2 separate regions of the Homo sapiens genome follow, and region 1 is linked to region 2. The links come from fine-mapping of genetic effects on gene expression. Tissue or cell type: thyroid. Region 2 holds a variant in brackets; the other region holds the start of a gene. All regions are shown on one strand. Distances are from middle to middle.

The links. PIP is the estimated chance that this variant, and not a neighbour inherited with it, causes the effect.
Region 1: it holds the start of ARHGEF10L, and the variant in region 2 is fine-mapped to the expression of ARHGEF10L in thyroid (GTEx, PIP above 0.99).

The regions. Positions count from the first base shown.
Region 1 is chr1:17,536,533-17,544,709 of GRCh38, forward strand. It overlaps ARHGEF10L (Rho guanine nucleotide exchange factor 10 like), which reads left to right and starts at 3,166. Exons shown (of 29, transcript NM_018125.4): 1 at 3,166-3,418. RefSeq lists an enhancer at 257-306.
Region 2 is chr1:17,587,863-17,596,039 of GRCh38, forward strand. ARHGEF10L (Rho guanine nucleotide exchange factor 10 like) reads left to right here. Exons shown (of 29, transcript NM_018125.4): 4 at 584-617. Among named protein-coding and RNA genes, the nearest start is that of ARHGEF10L, 52 kb to the left of the region's middle. RefSeq lists enhancers at 910-1,475, 2,042-2,607. The variant G/A (reference allele first, on the strand shown) is at 4,243.

The sequences.
Region 1 (8,177 bases), 51 kb before region 2:
ATGTCAAGAGGGCAAGAATACGTGAAGATGTGGCCTGCTGAGGGCTGGCCTGGACTGTGAGGGCTGCAGGTTTATTTATTTTCCAGCATATGTTTTGTGATGTCACTCTTTCTCGCCAGAGTGGAGAGTAGAGGGAAAATGAAATCAAAACACTATCACAGAGGAGGGGCCTTAAATCAGAGGAGTGACAGAGGGCTGCGAGTGACGTTGACAAGTGGAGAGCACAGCTGTGTCTAAAGGGCCACCACTCCTGGGGCCCTGCAGAGTGTGGCCCTGGGGGAATGTGGACCTGGCATTATCAGATCTTCCGATTTGTTAAGAGAAGCTAGAAATCTGGCTTTTAATTTTTTTTTTTCAGAGACAGAGTCATGCTGTTGCCTAGGCTGGGGTGCAGCGGTGGGATCATGGCTCACTGCAGCCTCAAACTCCTGGGCTCAAGTGATCCTCCCACCTCAGCCACCTGAGTAGCTGGGACTATAGGCATGCACTACCGCATCTGGCTAGATTTTTATTTTATTTTATTTTATTTTATTTTATTTTTGTAGAGACAGGGGTCTCCCTATGTTGCCCAGGCTGGTCTAAAATGCCTGGCCTCAAGCAATCCTCTTGCCTTGGCCTCCTAAAGTGCTGGGATTACAGGCATGAGCCACTGCTCCTGGCTGCAATCTGACTTTTTATGGGAAATCTCCCAATGATTAAATGATGGCAACTAACAACAACAAAACCACTGTGGGCAAAACAAAATGCTTCTGCAGACTCAATTTGTTTTATGAGCAGGTGGTTTGGAACCCTAGACCCAGAGGGTTATATTGATAAGGGTTCTAGGGTGTCCTTTAGAATCCATTACGATCCTCTAAAGAGTGTGCCCCTAACCTGTGCTGGGCTCTGAGGGCACAACGGGGGTCTGGGGCATGGCCCCTGCCCTCAAGGCTGTATCATAGCTGCCCTCAAGCTAGATGGGTCAAATCAGTTATGCACCCAGAGCCAACTTACAACAAAAGGACTAGGTGCTATAGAGCTCAGAGGAGGGAGAGGTCAGGGAATGGAGGAGGCCATGTGAAAAGGCCTCCTGGAGATTCTGGGCCTTGTGTTGGTTCTCAGACAGGAGGGTAAGACTTAGTACAACCAAAGAAGGTAAGGGGCATCCTGAGCTGGAGGCGTCAGACATTTCAGGATCAGATGGGAAATAAGACAATAAAGAAGGCCGGGCACGGTGATTCACACCTGTAATCCCAGCACTTTGGGAGGCCAAGATGGGATGATCTCTTGAGCCCAGGAGTTCAAGACCAGCCTGGACAACATAGTAAGACCACCATCTCTACAAAAAAAAAAAAAAAAAAAAGAAAGAAAAGAAAAAAAAAATGAGCCAGGCATGGCTACCTGGCAATATAGGCACTACAGGCACCACCATGCCCGCACCTGTAGTGCCAGCTACTTGCAGGCTGAGGCAGGAGGATTGCTTGAGCCTAGGAGTTTGAGGTTACGGTGAGCTGATTGTGCCAGCCTGAGCCACAGGGCAAGACCCAGTCTCTTAAAAAAAAACAAAGAAAGAAAAAAAACATAGCCAAGGAAGGGGTTGGAGTACACTGTGAAAGACCGCGATGCTGGTCTGGGATGTGTACTTGGCTCTGGCTATGACGGCAGGACTCAAAAGTCCATTTCTGGTCCAAAGCTTAATGCCATGAGCCTGAGGTCACTCAATGGACATCTGAAGTCTTCTTCCTGCTTTGCTAGCATCCCCAAACCTCTCCTGTCTGCTGTCCTGCCATCATTTATTCACAGCAGGGCAGGGGCCGTGCCTGTTGTGTTCACTGGTGTCTCCTGCGTGCCTAGAACGATGTCTGGAACAGAGCAAAAATGCTCAAAGAATATCTCCTGCCTACTTAAACTATGAGCCAGTGTTGCCCTAGCCTGGGGCTCAGGACAACTCTGTGGTGCTTATGTTCTTGTGTCGAGAGGGACAATAAACAAACCAACAAGTCGGTGAATAAGATGATTTCAGTGCGTGGCCTGTGTGGCTTGTCTCACTGCACTGTAGCCGTTTGTTTATTTGCGTCTTCTCCTAAGCCTATGAGCTCCGAGGGGGCGGGGCTGGGGTCTGTCTGGTTCTTTGTCTCACTGGTAGCCCCTGAGGCTGGTGCCTGACAAATAGGGAGTAGTTAAAAAAAAAAAAAAAAAAAAGTTTTTGCTGGCTGTGGGCTGTAAGGAACACAAGCTGAAAATGATTTCAACCTACGTGCACCTGTACCCTTTGGAGGCTGCAGAACTTATCATTATCAACCCAGGAGTAATTGCTGATAAGCCCGCGTGTGAATTTCCTTGCAAATAGAGGGGTAGCGGGGGAGTGTTTAACAACAACGCGGATAATCTTAATTAATGACCTGATAACTGTAATTAATTGCATCATATCCAGAGGCCCTCTTTGGAATTTCAGGAGGGAGTACCTAGTGTTTGGCAGCTTTGGAGCTGCAAAGGCAGGGGAATGCTAGGATCTCAGTCTCAGCACTTTGCTGCTCAGTGAGCTTTGCCAAGTTACTCTCAGTTCTGAGCCTCAGTTTTCTCCTAGGGAAAATGGGGCTACATCACTGGGGTGTTGCCGGTCTCAAAGCCGTCAATGCCTGAACCCGCCAGGGTTGTTCTTGGAGGTTTGGCTGCATGGCTGCAAGGTTCCCCATGTTGCCATGGCGGGGGTGGGGGGCAATACGGGGCCGCCAAGACTGGTTGAGGGGCAGGTCATAAGTCTAGGGTTTCCCCTGGGGCCGGTCCAGGATTCTCACCCTTTTGGGGGAACCTCAGGGCAAAATGTTGAAGTGGGGGAGGAGAAGCCAGCACCCTGCGCGCCTGCGGGGTCTCCCCGCGGAGAACCGGGGAAGGAGAACCGGGAGGCGGGAAGTGGGGACCCCGGGGTAGGTGAAGGAGCGAGGAGGTCGCCGTGTGGCCGGGGCCGGGCCCCATCCCCGCGGGCCTCAGTTTCCCCCCTGTACTGTGGGGGGCCGGTGGGCTGCCGGGACCGCTGGGGGCTCGCAGCGGGTCGGGGGAGGCCACGTCTCCCTCGCGGCGCGCTGGGAGCAGGGAGGGGGCGCGGCGGCCGCTGCCCCGGCCACCAGGGGTTAAGCGGTGACCTCAGCCGCGGCGCCCCGGGACCGGGCGGGCGGGGGCGGCGCCGCGTCGCGCACGGCGGCGGCGGCGGGACCAGGCCTCGGAGCGCGGCGGGCGCGGGCGCAGTCCCGGCGGGCCCGGACCTCGCGGGCGGGCGGGCGGCGCGGCCATTGGCTCGGGTGGCGGCGGCTGCGGCGGTGGGGGCGCCGTCCCGGCCATGGGCGCCCGCGGCGGCCTGCGGAGCTGGAGGCGCGGCGCCGGCCGCCAGGCGCCTTTGTGAGCGGCGCGGACGACAAAGGCGCGGGCCCGGGCAGCCGAGGTGGGTGAGTGAGCGCGGGGGCCCTGCCTCCGCGGGATCCTCGCGTGTGCCGGAGTCTGCGAGTGCGCGGGAGGCGCTCCAGGCGCCAGGGTCCTCCGGGTGTCCTGGGCGTGTCGCCGTGGGCGGGCGGGGGCCGTGTCCGCCGCTGTGTCCCTGTGTCTGGGTGTGAGAGCCCCGAGCCCGCGTCTCCCCTCTGTGTGGGTCTCTCCTTGTGTCACTGGAGTTCTGGTGTTACTAGGGCGAGTGGCCTTTGTGCTTCAGCTTGTGTGTGTGTGTGGCCTCCAGCCGGCTGGAGTCAGGACAGTTTGGGAACCCCCACCCCCACCCTGTGCCTCACTTTCCCCTGTGGTCCACTTCTTCCTGCGCTGACCTTGGGGGTCCCTGGGATCGGGTGAAGTCAGGGAGTGCCCCTGTCGCCTCTGTGGTGAGTCAGCCTCTCCCACCCTGGACCCCCGCCCAGAGGCGGAACGGGACGGCCTCCTGCAGGAGGAGACTGTGGGAGGAGAGGATGCCGGGTCAGCCGGAGGCCGTGGCTGCGGAGCCGCCAGTCCCGGATCCTCCCTGGAACAGGGATATATGTCAGGGAGGGCCCTAGATGAAGACCAGCCCCCCTGGAGTCGCTGGGATGGCCTCCGAGAGGGAGAGCAGGCCTGACTGTAGGGGGCATGGGGACAATTCTTCCTCCCTCTGCCAAAGCGGGGCCCTGGGGCGGGGGTCTCGAATCTTCCTTTGGCCCTGAAAGCCAGGAGGCCCTGCGTTGCATCAGTGCCAAGTAGAGAGGTGGTGGCTGGTGGGCTGCACTTTCCCACTGGCTTTGGAGCTCAGTTTCTGCCCCAGAGTCCTTGGCCTCCCTTAAGGATGCTACTGGGAAGCCACGCCCCACCTGCCGGGAGCCCCATCTGCTCCTCCTCGGGTTCTGGGGAGAGAGGGCAGGTTGTGCGGGCTCATTAGAATGCATAGCTCTTCCCAGCATCCGCCCAGCACTGTGCCCCCCACGGTGTTCAGGCCCTGGACACACAGACTAGAAAGCAGGTCAGCCTCCGGAAATCTCCAAGCTCCCTGTGACTGTGGGCTGGGGACTGCCCTTCCCCTTCATCGGGCCCTCAGGCTGAAGCTCAGAACCCTCCTGTAAGGAAGGCTTCCTGGGGTGCCCGAATCTGATGCTCGCTCTGTCCCCAGGCGCTTGCCTTCCTGAGGCCCCCTGTCCCTTCCCCTTCCACCAAAGAGCCTCTGTGGGCTGTTCTCTCTATCCAGGAAGTGGGTCCCATCCTTCACCTCTTTCATTTCTCACTCGGGAGCTACTTCCTCTCCAGTGAGCCAGGGTAGCCACAGTGCTCTGAGGGTTCCTGCCCCAGTTGTGGGGGCGGGGGGCTTTTTTCAGTCTTCCAGTGGAACAGGGGCCATGTCTGTCCTTGATCACAGCTCAGAACAGTGCCTGGTGCATAGTGGGTGCTCTACACATAGTTGCTGAATAAATGAATGTCCAATAACTAATGGTTCCCAAATTCTGTTTCAAGTTTTAACTCTGGAGTAGTCTGGGGAGGGGCGAAAGCTGGTGTACTGCTCTGGGGCCCAGGTACCAGGTTAGTATAAGAGGAGGTTGGGTGTGGTGGCTCACCCTTGTAATCCCAGCACTTTGGGAGGCCAAGTTGGGTGGATCACTTGAGGTCAGGAGTTCGGGATCAGCTTGGCCAACATGGTGAAACCCTGTCTTTACTAAAAATGCAAAAATTATGGCCAGGCTCAGTAGCTCATGTCTGTAATCCCAGCACTTTGGGAGGCTGAGGTGGGCGGATTACCTGAGGTCAGGAGTTCAGGACTAGCCTGGCCAACATGGTGAAACCCCATCTCTACTAAAAATATAAAATTAGCTGGGCATAGTGGCACATGCCTGTAGTCCCAGCTACTCGGGAGGCTGAAGCAGGAGAATCGCTTGAACCCGGGAAGTGCAGGTTGCAGTGAGCCAAGATCGCACCATTGCACTCCAGCTTGGGTGACAAGAGTGAAACTCCATTTCAAAACAAAAACGAAAACAGAAATTAGCTGGGTGTGGTGGTGCACGTCTGTAATCCCAGCTATTTGGGAGGCTGAGGTGGGAGGGTCGCTTGAACCCGGGAGGCGGAGGTTACAGTGAACCAAGATTGTGCCACTGCACTCCAGCCTGGGTAACAGAATGAGATTCTATCTCAAAAGAAAAAAAGAAAAGAAAAGAAGAAGATTGAGCATGGTGGCTCATGCTTGTAATCCCAGCACTTTAGGAGCCTCAGGTGGGAGGATCACTTGAGCGCAGGTGTTCGGGACCAGCCTGGGCAACACAAGAGAACATGTCTCTACAAAAAATTTTAAAAATTAGTTGGATGTGCTGGTGCACGCCTGTAGTCCCAGCTACTCAGGAGGCTGAGATGGGAGGATCACTTGAGCCTGGAAGTTCGAGGCTGCAGTGAGCTGTGATTGTGCCACCGTACTACAGCTTAAGTGACAGAGGGAGACCCTGTCTTAATTATATATATGAGAAAAGTGTACTGTTACTTGGGGAAATAGTATATTAATTAACAGACATTTATAGTATATGCTGAGTGCCAGGTGTTGGGCTAGATGCTTTAAGCATGTACCTCTTACACACTGAGAAGGAACAGAGTGGAAAGAATACATGTAATCTTCTATGATTAATTTTGAAAAGATAAAGTAAATGATATATATGCCATGATAAGATAATAACGTGGATTTATATTGTACTTTCATATCTGCTATCTCTTTGTTTTGACAACACCCTAGTAGTTAGGCAGGGAGATGGGTTCATATCCATCTTACAGATGAGGAAGCTGAGCATACAGCATTTAAGTGACTGTCGAAGGTCACTGCTGAAGCGAGTCAGCGAAGGCGCCAGCACTCAGCCTGGGACTCCCTGGCCACTCAGTCCTTGCTTTCTTCTGCACAACTGTCTCCAGTGCCTTTTGTATTCCTGTCACCCGGCTAGACAAGGGTGAATGGGCCACTGTTCTTGCCCTCAAGGGGTCTAAAGTCCAGGAGAGAATCAGGCTCTTTAACAACTGAGTGTGCCAGAGTTGTTCCGCCCCATGGTGCCACCTTGGGCCCAGCTCAGCTCCTTCCTTGCAGTGTCCCAGAGAGTTCTTCTTCTCTCTACCTCAGTGGAGGGCATCAGAGCCATTTTCATTCAGGACCCTGGTCTGATGACATTCCCAGGAGTGACTGGTCCTTACAGAGCCTCTGCCGGGTCCTGGGCAGTGGTGAGTTGGGAGCCAGCTCACACCTACACATAAGAGCTGATTGCTAAATTTTAGGAATTTTATGAGCCGGTTGTTAAACACAACCATTATAAAAAATTCTGAGGCCAGGAGCGATGGCTCATGCGTGTAATCCCAGCACTTTGGGAGGCCAAGGCAGGCAGATCCCCTGAGGTCGGGAGTTCGAGACTAGCCTGGCCAACATGGTGAAACCCCATCTCTACTAAAAATACAAAAATTAGCTGGGTGTGGTGGCCCATGCCTGTAATCCCAGCTACTCGGGAGTCTGAGGCAGGAGAATTGCTGGAACCCAGGAGGCGGAGGTTGCAGTGAGCCGAGGTTGTGCCATTGTACTCCAGCCTGGGGGACAAGAGTAAAACTCCGTCTCAAAAAAAAAAATTTTTTTTGAGTGTATACATTCATCATTAAGTAAATTATATATATATAGTTTGTTTGTTTGTTTGTTTTTTGAGATGGAGTCTCACTCTTTTGCCCAGGCTGGAGTGAAATGGTACAATCTTAGCTCACTGCAACCACCGCCCCCTGGTTTCAAGTGATTCTCCTGCCTCAGCCCCCTCAGTAGCTGGAATTACAGGTGCCTGCCACCACGCCCAGCTAATTTTTGTATTTTTAGTAGAGACGGGGTTTTACCATGTTGGCCAGGCTGGTCTCAAACTCCTGACCTCAGGTGATCCACCTGCCTCAGCCTCCCAAAGTGCTGGGATTACAGGCATGAGCCACCGCGCCTGGCTGCTATTATATATTTTTGAGATGGAGTTTCACTCTTGTTGCTCAGGCTGGAATGCAGTGGCGTGATCTCTGCTCACTGCAACCTCCACCTCCTGGGTTCAAGTGATTCTCCTGCCTCAGCCTCTGGGATTACAGTAGCTGGGATTACAGGTGCCTGCCACCACACCTGGCTAATTTTTTGTATTTTAGTAGAGATGGGGTTTCACTATGTTGGCCAGGCTGGTCTTGAACTGCTGACCTCAGGTGGTCCACCTGCCTCAGCCTCTCAAAGTGCTGGAATTACAATTATGAGCCACTGTGACTGGCCATAAATTTTATACATATATATGTGTGTATATATATATATAATAATTTTTTTTTTGAGATGGAGTTTTGGCTCTTGTTGCTCAGGCTGGAGTGCAATGGCATGATCTCGGCTCACTACAACCTCTGCCTCCCACGCACGTTCAAGCGATTCTCATGCCTCAGCCTCCCGAGTAGCTGGGACTACAGGCGTGCACCACTACTCCCGGCTAATTTTTGTATTTTTAGTAGAGACGGGGTTTCACCATGTGGGCCAGGCTGGTCTCAAACTCCTGACCTCAGGTGATCTGCCCACCTCAGCCTCCCAAAGTGCTGGGATTACAGGCGTGAGCCACCATGCCCAGCCTGTAAATTATATTTTATAAAGTAATAAATACTCAATTTTTTTCCTAATTATTTTATTCTATTATTACCTGTGCTTTTGTGGTTATTTGCTGCTTTGTGTGTGTGTGCGTTGGGGA
Region 2 (8,177 bases):
AATGGAAGTGGTTGGCCTGAGTTTTGCTTTGGAGACAGTTGCTGCCCAGAGCTTGTGTCTCTGAAGTCCTCCCTGCAGCTTCTCCTAAAGAATCCACACCAGCCAGAAGAGCAGCCTCCCAGAGGTTCCCTCTCCTGTCTGCCTTGGGGAGCTGGCAACCCTGGGGGGCAGGAGGGCCCTGATAAGCTGGTGTTAAATGGCAGCTTCTGGGCTCTTAGAGTCTGTTATCTGAGAGAGAGAATCTGGGGACTGGACCAGCTGGAACTTCCTGCAGGCTTGGGGACAGCGGGCTCCTGGAGCAGCTGGGGGTGGAGGGCAGGCCCAGAGCAGGCAGGGTGGCTGCCACGGGTTCTGGCTGGAGTTGGGAAGTGGGCCACGGGGTGGGTGGGGGTGGTGCAGGCCAGGTAGGGGAGCTGATGACTGAGCCAGGGCTGGGGGAGGGAGGCGGGGCTCAGCAGGCACCCAGACTGGCCAGGCCCTGTCTGCGGCGCCCCTGGGGAGGCTGGGAAAGGGGCGGGGAAGGCCTGAGTGCCTGGGGCCAGCCTCTGGCCTGACAGGCTCTCTGTCTGCTCTTCTTTTGCAGACCCAGACCCAGCAGCTGCTCCACCCGGCACAGGGTAAGTGAACCTTGCTCCTTTGCTTTGGCGGTTGGAAACAGGGAGACACCGGGCAGTGGGTGGGGATGGGGTGGAGCTGAGGCCCAGAGGACCCGACTGGTCTTTGGCTAAGGAGGAAAGCATTTCACTGAGGCCCTGTGCCCTGGGGGAAGAGGTCAGTTCCAGAAACTCATGGTACTTTTTCCTTTATTTTGCCCACAAACCTCTGAAACCGCAGGAGGCAGGCCTGGCTCCAAACCCTACCTCTGTGGCCTTGGAGGAGTCACAGAAACTCTCCAAGTGTCAGTCTGTTTGCGGCTGAAGGGGAAACAATGAGAGCACCCCCTCTGTTGGGTTTGTCTTGGAGAAGCAAACAGCTGGAGGGTCCCCAGTGTGTGTGTGTGTGTGTGTGTGTGTGTGTGTGTGTGTGTGTGTGTGTGTAGTGGGGGAGGTTGGGGGGGTTTGAGGGTGGGGGGGGTGCAGCCCATTGTAATTATTTTTGCAGTTGCCATTTGTCTTGTTAATATCATTCCCATTCCTATGACAGTTGCTATTAGGGACCCTGCCCTCTGTGCCTGGGAGCCTGTCAGAGGCAGTGTAGCCTAGTGGTTAGGAGCCTGGATGTTGGGGTGAGGGCCTGCGTCTTGGCTGTGGCCCCCACACTGGCCACAGGTCCTCATGTCAGTCAAGTCCCCCTTTGGTTTTCTCATCTGTAAAATGGGCTATCGGGTAAGATGCCCAGCCTCGTGGTAGGTGCCTAATCAAGGCATTTGCTTTTTATCACAGTTCTTCTTTGTCTTCTGCAAGTCAGGTCTGGGTTGGAAGGGTAATTGGGTAACTGGAGGTGGTGGGAGCTGAGGCCTCTCAGGACCAGGTGTTTAGAGCCTCCTTGCCTAAGCAGTGGAGGGGTCTAGGCTCCAAATGAATGGCCCAAGCATCTGGAACCCTGAGTTTAAATCCTCACTACCCTGGTGAGGGGAGGCATGTCTGAGCCCTGCTTTGTCTTCCTGGGGTGCCCCAAACTGAGCAAGAGGGGCTAATTCTCAGGGTGGTGTCACCCAACGGGAGGTTTCAGAGATGCAGGTTGCAGGCCCAGGCCCCCAGAGGAGAAGTCCTTCATGTGCTCATTTGCTGTCCAGAGTGGGTGGACTTGGGGAGGGTTTCTCCTGAGCTTGCTACTATGTAATTAAGGTGAGAATTAGAGGCCAGCCTCTCCTTCCTGATTAGGGACCTGAAATGAATCAGCAGCCATTCGTCCTGCACCTGGGCTGGGAAGGGCCGTGATGGCTGCAGTCTTCCAAGGGTTTATATCTCCAGGGTGGGCCAGGGGTGAAGTTGTGGAGAAACTCAGTCTGGTGGGAGATGCAGATGCGTCAGAGTGGGACAGAGACGGACGCCCAGGGAGCTGGGACACTGACTGGAGGGGAGCAAGGATGGGGTCGTCAGGGAAGACTTCTGGGCCAGGTCCTGGCTCAGCGAGTGAATGGAAATTCTCCATTCAGGATGGCAGAGGGGCAGGGGGAGTGCCTGCTGAGGAAGCCCCTGAGCAGAGGTACAGGGCTGGCACACAGGGTGGTCAGCACACTCACTTCCTTCAAGCTACCCTCTTGGAGACCCCAGGAGTTAGGTGATGTGCTCAGGGTTCCATGTAGATAAGTAGATGCTCATTCAGAAGAGAGACCAAGGCCCCTCTGACACCGAGGCCAGGCGCTGGGCCACCGTGCTTCTCTGCCTCCAGGAGCTCATGCGCTGGTCCCTGATGAGAGGGTGTGGCTGGCTTCATAGGAATGATCTGATTGTGTGTACATTTTTTGAGGAAAGATTTTTGCCCACTCAGAGATGATCTCTGAGCTCTTGGGAGAGTGGCGTCTAAGCAGTCGGTGGAATGTTCCATAGGTCCCTCCCGGGGAGGCTTGTGCGGCAGTGCCTGGTGTGTGATTCCTGGTGAGGTCCCTTCCCTTGACATGAGAGCAGAGCAAAAAGAGCCGGCTCTTCGCTCCCCCAACACAGAGATCTTGTGAGGGCGGAGGGGTGTGCAGGTGTGTCTCTCCACCAGCAGTTGCCTCTATGGGGACAGGGACTTTTTGATTTTTTGGAGGGGGATGTTTTGTTTGCTGCCAAACCTCATGGCTTAAGTGGCAGGCACGGGGTGAGTGCCAAAGACGTCCTTGGTGAACGAATGATGGACAGAAGGACAAGGAGGGTCTGTGTTCCATGGAAGCAAGGAGAAAGCAAACAGCATGTCAGACCTGGTGAAGTGGCTCACGCCTGTAATCCCAGCACTTTGGGAAGTCAAGGTGGGTGGACCACTGAGGTCAGGAGTTCAAGACCCAGCCTGGCCAACATGGTGAAACCCCGTCTCTACAGAAAATACAAAAATTAGCCGGTCCTGGTGAACGGTGCCTGTAATTCCAGCTACTGGGGAGGCTGAGGCAGGAGAATCGCTTGAACCTGGGAGGTGGAGGTTGTAGTGAGGCGAGATTGCGCCATTTCACTCCAGCCTGTGTGACAAAGCGATACTCTGTCTCAAAAACAAACAAACAAAGAAACAAAACCAACCAAAGAATACCACCCCACCCCTCTACCCCCAAATGAATGGCATGTCAATAGGGTTTCTATTGGATTCTGACTCTGGCAGCTGTAGAGGCCAAGACAGAGGCCAGGGAAGGGAAGCGCAGAGTGGTTGTGTGGCCCAAGGCCACATGGCTAGAGCCACCTGACCTCACTGGTGCTGATGGTGCTGTGCTGAGCCACAGGCTGTGCTAAGTGCTCTGTGTACATTATCTCTTTTTGTTGTTGTTTGAAACAGGGTCTCACTCTGTTGCCCAGGCTGGAGTGCAGTGGTGTGATCATGGCTCACTGCATCCTTGACCTTCCAGGCTTGAGCGATTCTCCTGCCTTAGCCTCCCGAGTAGCTGGGACTACAGGCATGTGCCATCATGCCTGGCTATTTTTTTTTTTTTTTTTTTTCTGAGACAGTTTTGCTCTTGTTGCCCAGGCTGGAGTGTGGTGGCGCCATCTCGGCTCACTGCAACCTTTGCCTCCTGGGTTCAAGTGATTCTCCTGCCCAGCCTCCTGAGTAGCTGGGATTACAGGTGTGTGCCACCACGCCGAACTAATTTTTTGTATTTTTAGTAGAGATGGGGTTTCATCATGTTGGCCAGGCTGGTCTTGAGCTCCTGACCTCAGGTGATCCACCCACCTCGGCCTCCCAAAGTGCAGGGATTATAGGCGTGAGCCACCGCGCCTGGCCTAACTTTCATATTTTTTGTAGAGATGGAGATCTCACTCTGTTGCCCAGGCTGGTCTTGAACTCTTGGCTCAAGCAATCCTCCTGCCTTGGTGTCCCAAAGTGCTGGGATTACAGGCATGAACCACTGCATCTGGCCTGTATTATCTTATTACTTGTACCCCTAGGAGCCCTAGAAGACAGGTACTATTGAATATGCCCATTTTGCAGATGAGCAGCTGAGGCTTAGAGAACTGAAGTAATTTACCCAAATCTCATGGAGCTAGTAAATGGCAGGGCTGGGACTAGGCCTGTCTGCCCTCAAAGCTGTCTACTGAGGCCCACAGGGTTTGCTTCTCCTGGTGGACTCTGAAGCACGTGCACTCATGTCCACCCTGAGCTCTCGCTGGGGGAGTC[G/A]TGGTTGAAAGAGCAGCCCTGAGTACCCAGCAGTGCCTGGGAAACGTGAGCGCCACAGATCGCTGGCTTCCTGTGTTTTTCCTGGACTCAGGCCTGCACCCCTCACCTCTGAGTGCAATAGCCCCATGGACTCTGGCCCCCTCTGGAGTTGTTTGCTTTTCCTGTTTAGTTTTGCCTTTATCCCCCTGTGACCTCAGCACTTTTCTGTGGGTCAGGGTTTTGGCTCCTGGCCCTGGTCGCAGGGATTCTCATGGGCTCCCTGAAGGTACCTGGCCTACCCCTTCCTGGGCTTTTCTGGATAAGATGGTTGTACTGCCTGTTGGCTAGTGTCTCTCATTGGGGCCTGGAGCCAGGGGAAGTGATGGGGCAGCCGTATTCTGGGAGAGGACAGGGAGACTCATCTTCCCTGGATGTATCAGGGGCTGAGAGGATCAGGGCAAGAGGAGACCAGGCTCAGCAAAGCAGTATTGGCACAGGATGGAAACAGGGCGCTGGTGGCCTGTGGCTTCTGAGACTGCTAGGTGTGGGGGACATAGGGGCTCATGGGAAGGGCAGGTCAGCAAGGCCGGAGTGGGTCCGCAGCGTCTGGAGGAAATCTTCAAGATTTCCCAGATTGCCGCAGACCTAGTCTGGAGTTGTTTGGAATCCTGGGCTTCTCCTTACATGTGCTGTTTCCCAAATCCGGAACATTTGAGCCTCCTGCGTCCTGTCCCGCAGGGTCCATGCGGGACGTGAGGCATGGCAGATACCGGCTCTCCGCCCATGGAGTCCCCCATGGGAGGGTTATGGGGACCAGGTCTTTCTTTCCATTAAAAATCTTTCTTTAAAGGTCCCTTGCCAAATCCATAAATTGGACAAGCTGGTTTTTGTGTTTTCTTTCCTTCTTTTCCTTCTCCGAGGGTAGAAACAAGGGCTCCCAGTTTCCAATCAGAGCCAGGACCTTTGGATCCCAGGCCCTTTGAGGACCCCCACAGCCTCTTCATTGAAGAAGGCACTTGCAGGGTACCTGGTTGGCACATCTCTTCATGGTATAAATATGCCTTCAAGGAATCCTGTGACGTTCCTCCCTGCATCCCTGCAGCGGTGGGACTCTGCCTCACTCGTTTTTTATCCCAGTGCCTGGCAGAGATGGTGCAACAATACTAACAGCCTACACGTGCACGGACTTTACAGTTTACATCTCATTTTGATTCTCACAACTGTGGGAGGCAGAATCATGGCCCTTCCACCCCTTGGAGATTTCCGTGTCTTCATCCCCAGCACCTGTGAATCTGTGACGCTGCGTGGCAAAGGGACTTGGCAGATGTGATTAAGTGAGGGGTTTTGAGATGGGGAGATGACCCTGGGTTATCTGTGGGCCCAGTGGCACCACAAGGGTTGTGACAAGAGGGAGACAGGAGGGCCAGAGTCAGAAAGAGGTGGGAAGATGCCACGCTCCTGGCCTTGGAAATGGAGGACGGGATTGTGACCAAGGAATGCAGGTGGCTTCTCGAGGCTGGAAAAGGTGGGGGATGGCTTCTCCCCTGGAGCTGCCCCTGCTGAAACCTCGCTTTTAGTGAGAGCACAGCCCTGCCGAAACCTCGCTTTTAGCCCTGCGAACCCCTTGATGGCCTTCTGACCTCCACACCTGTGAGAACAGATTTGTGTTGTAAGTCACTAAGTTCGTGGTCATCTGTTACAGCAGCCATAGGAAACTAACACGACAGCCCTGGAAAGAGGAAATTATCGTGGGCACCATTTTGCAGACCAGACCTGGGAGAGAGCGTCACTTGTCTGTGGGGCTGGGCTGGCAGGCATGGTGCTTGGGCTCAAAGCCTCAGGCCAGGGGCTCTGTTTGCCCTTTCTCTATGGCCCTCTCTGTGCATCTAGGATGGTGCTCTGCTGACTGGCCGGTATTCCCCTGCCCTTCCCTTGCGTCTTCCTGTCCTTTCACCCAGCACCTCTTTACTGAGTGACTGCGATGGGGGCTGACATGCTCTGCCAGGCCATGTTATTTTTATGTGCCTGTGTGTGTGTTTGGCTCTAGGGCCAGATCATAATGGCCTGAATGTACCCAGCACTTCTTACATGCTGCGCTCTGAGAGCTTTCCCTCCCCAGTGCCATTCATCCTTGCAACACTCTCACAGGACAGGCGCTGATACAATCTGCATTCTAGAGATGTGGGAACTGGCACAGAGAGGACATGACATCAGCCCAAGGTCACAGAGAAAGATGAGCAGAGCCAGAGTTAACCCCAGCTGGCTTCCAGAACCTGTGTTCTAATCCCTCTGGTGCAACCGTCTCCCACACAGAGCTGGTTTGGATCCCGCCTGCCCTACATGTTAGCTGCATGACCCAGGACATGCTCTTTGGCTTCTCTGCCTAACCCTCAGTTTCTTTTCTTTTCTTTCTTTTGAGATGGAGTCTCTGTCGCCCAGGCTGGAGTGCAGTGGCGTGATCTTGGCTCACTCCAACCTCTGCTCTGCCCCCTGGGTTCAAGTGATTCTTCTGCCTCGGCCTCCCGAGTAGCTGGGATTACAGGCACCCGCCACCATGCCCGGCTAATTTTTTTCTATTTTTAGTAGAAACGGGGTCTCACCATGTTGGCCAGGCTGGTTTCAAACTCCTGACCTCAAGTGATCTGCCTGCCTTGGCTTCCCAAAGTGCTAGGATTATAGGTGTGAGCCACCATACCCGGCCCCCTCAGTTGCTAATCTCTGTAAAGCAGGGTGATGAGACTCACCGGATGGCACTGTTGGTGGGGATGAAATGAGATGGGAGAGATTAGGTGCTTACTCGGTGAGCTGCTCATTGTCACTGTCTCCAAAGGGTGTGGAGCTGTCTGGGGCTGACTCCAGGCACAAGGGACCCCTCCCTGGCCTGTGCATTGCTTAGCATTACCTGAGATGCTCTTCAGTCCATCCCTCCTCCCTACCTCCTCCTCTCTCTTCCTTTTTAAAAAAAATACAGTTTGTTGTAGAAAAATTAGAAAGTACAGAAAATGATAGACTAAAAGCAACTTTTAATCCTACCATGATGTGTTTCTGTCCAGCTTCTTTGCTAGGCATGTATGCAAGTATGCATGATTGTTTTTATAGAACTGTGGTTTATTGCACATGCTGTTTCGTGGCTCACCTTTTTTTTTTTTTTTTTTTTTTTTTAAAGCTAATTACATATCATGAGCATTTCCCCAGGGGAACTTGTATTGTTTTGCAACAACCCACATGGCTCTCGATACATTTTTGCCAGGGGTGCAGGGCCTCTCCATGTCTGACCAAGCCCTGGGGCCCCTGAGATGTCAGGGAGGGAGGTGCATTGCCACAGAGCAGGAGGCCAGAGGCTGGGCTTTGGCCCAGCATGTGTGTGGGGGGCCACCTGTACAGAGATGGCTCCCCAGAGGCCTCGACGCTCACTCCCTGCTGAGGTCTGTGATATGATGCCACCTGAGGGCCGCTCTGAGACTTCCCCTGGGGGGCTTCTCACTGCTCTCTACTCATCCAGTAAGGGGATCTGTGACCATGTGTGGGGTGGCACAGGAGAGACACACGGGGTCCTGGAAGCCCTCTGTGCACAGGATGGGCGGCCACAGAGGGAAGAGGGAACACATGCAGGTGAGGCCCCCGTGCCTGGAGGAGAGGCGGAGGGAAGGAGGGGGCGGGGAAGCAGCACACACGAGGCCATACCACGTGCCAGCCCCTGTGCCAGAGGATTTACATGCCTTCTTTATTTACTCCGTACCAGAACCCTGCGAGGGAGGTAGTGTTGCCTCATTTTACAGATATGGAAACTGAGGCACGGAGAAATGCTAAGTGCTTTATCTGCATCATCTCACTGAATCCTCACAGCTGGAAGTAGGACTGATACTTCACCCTGGTCCACATTCAGTAACTTGTCCCGGTGCACACAGCCAAGTGGCTGAGCCACAGTCATATCCCAGGTCGTGGCCCCGGGGTGC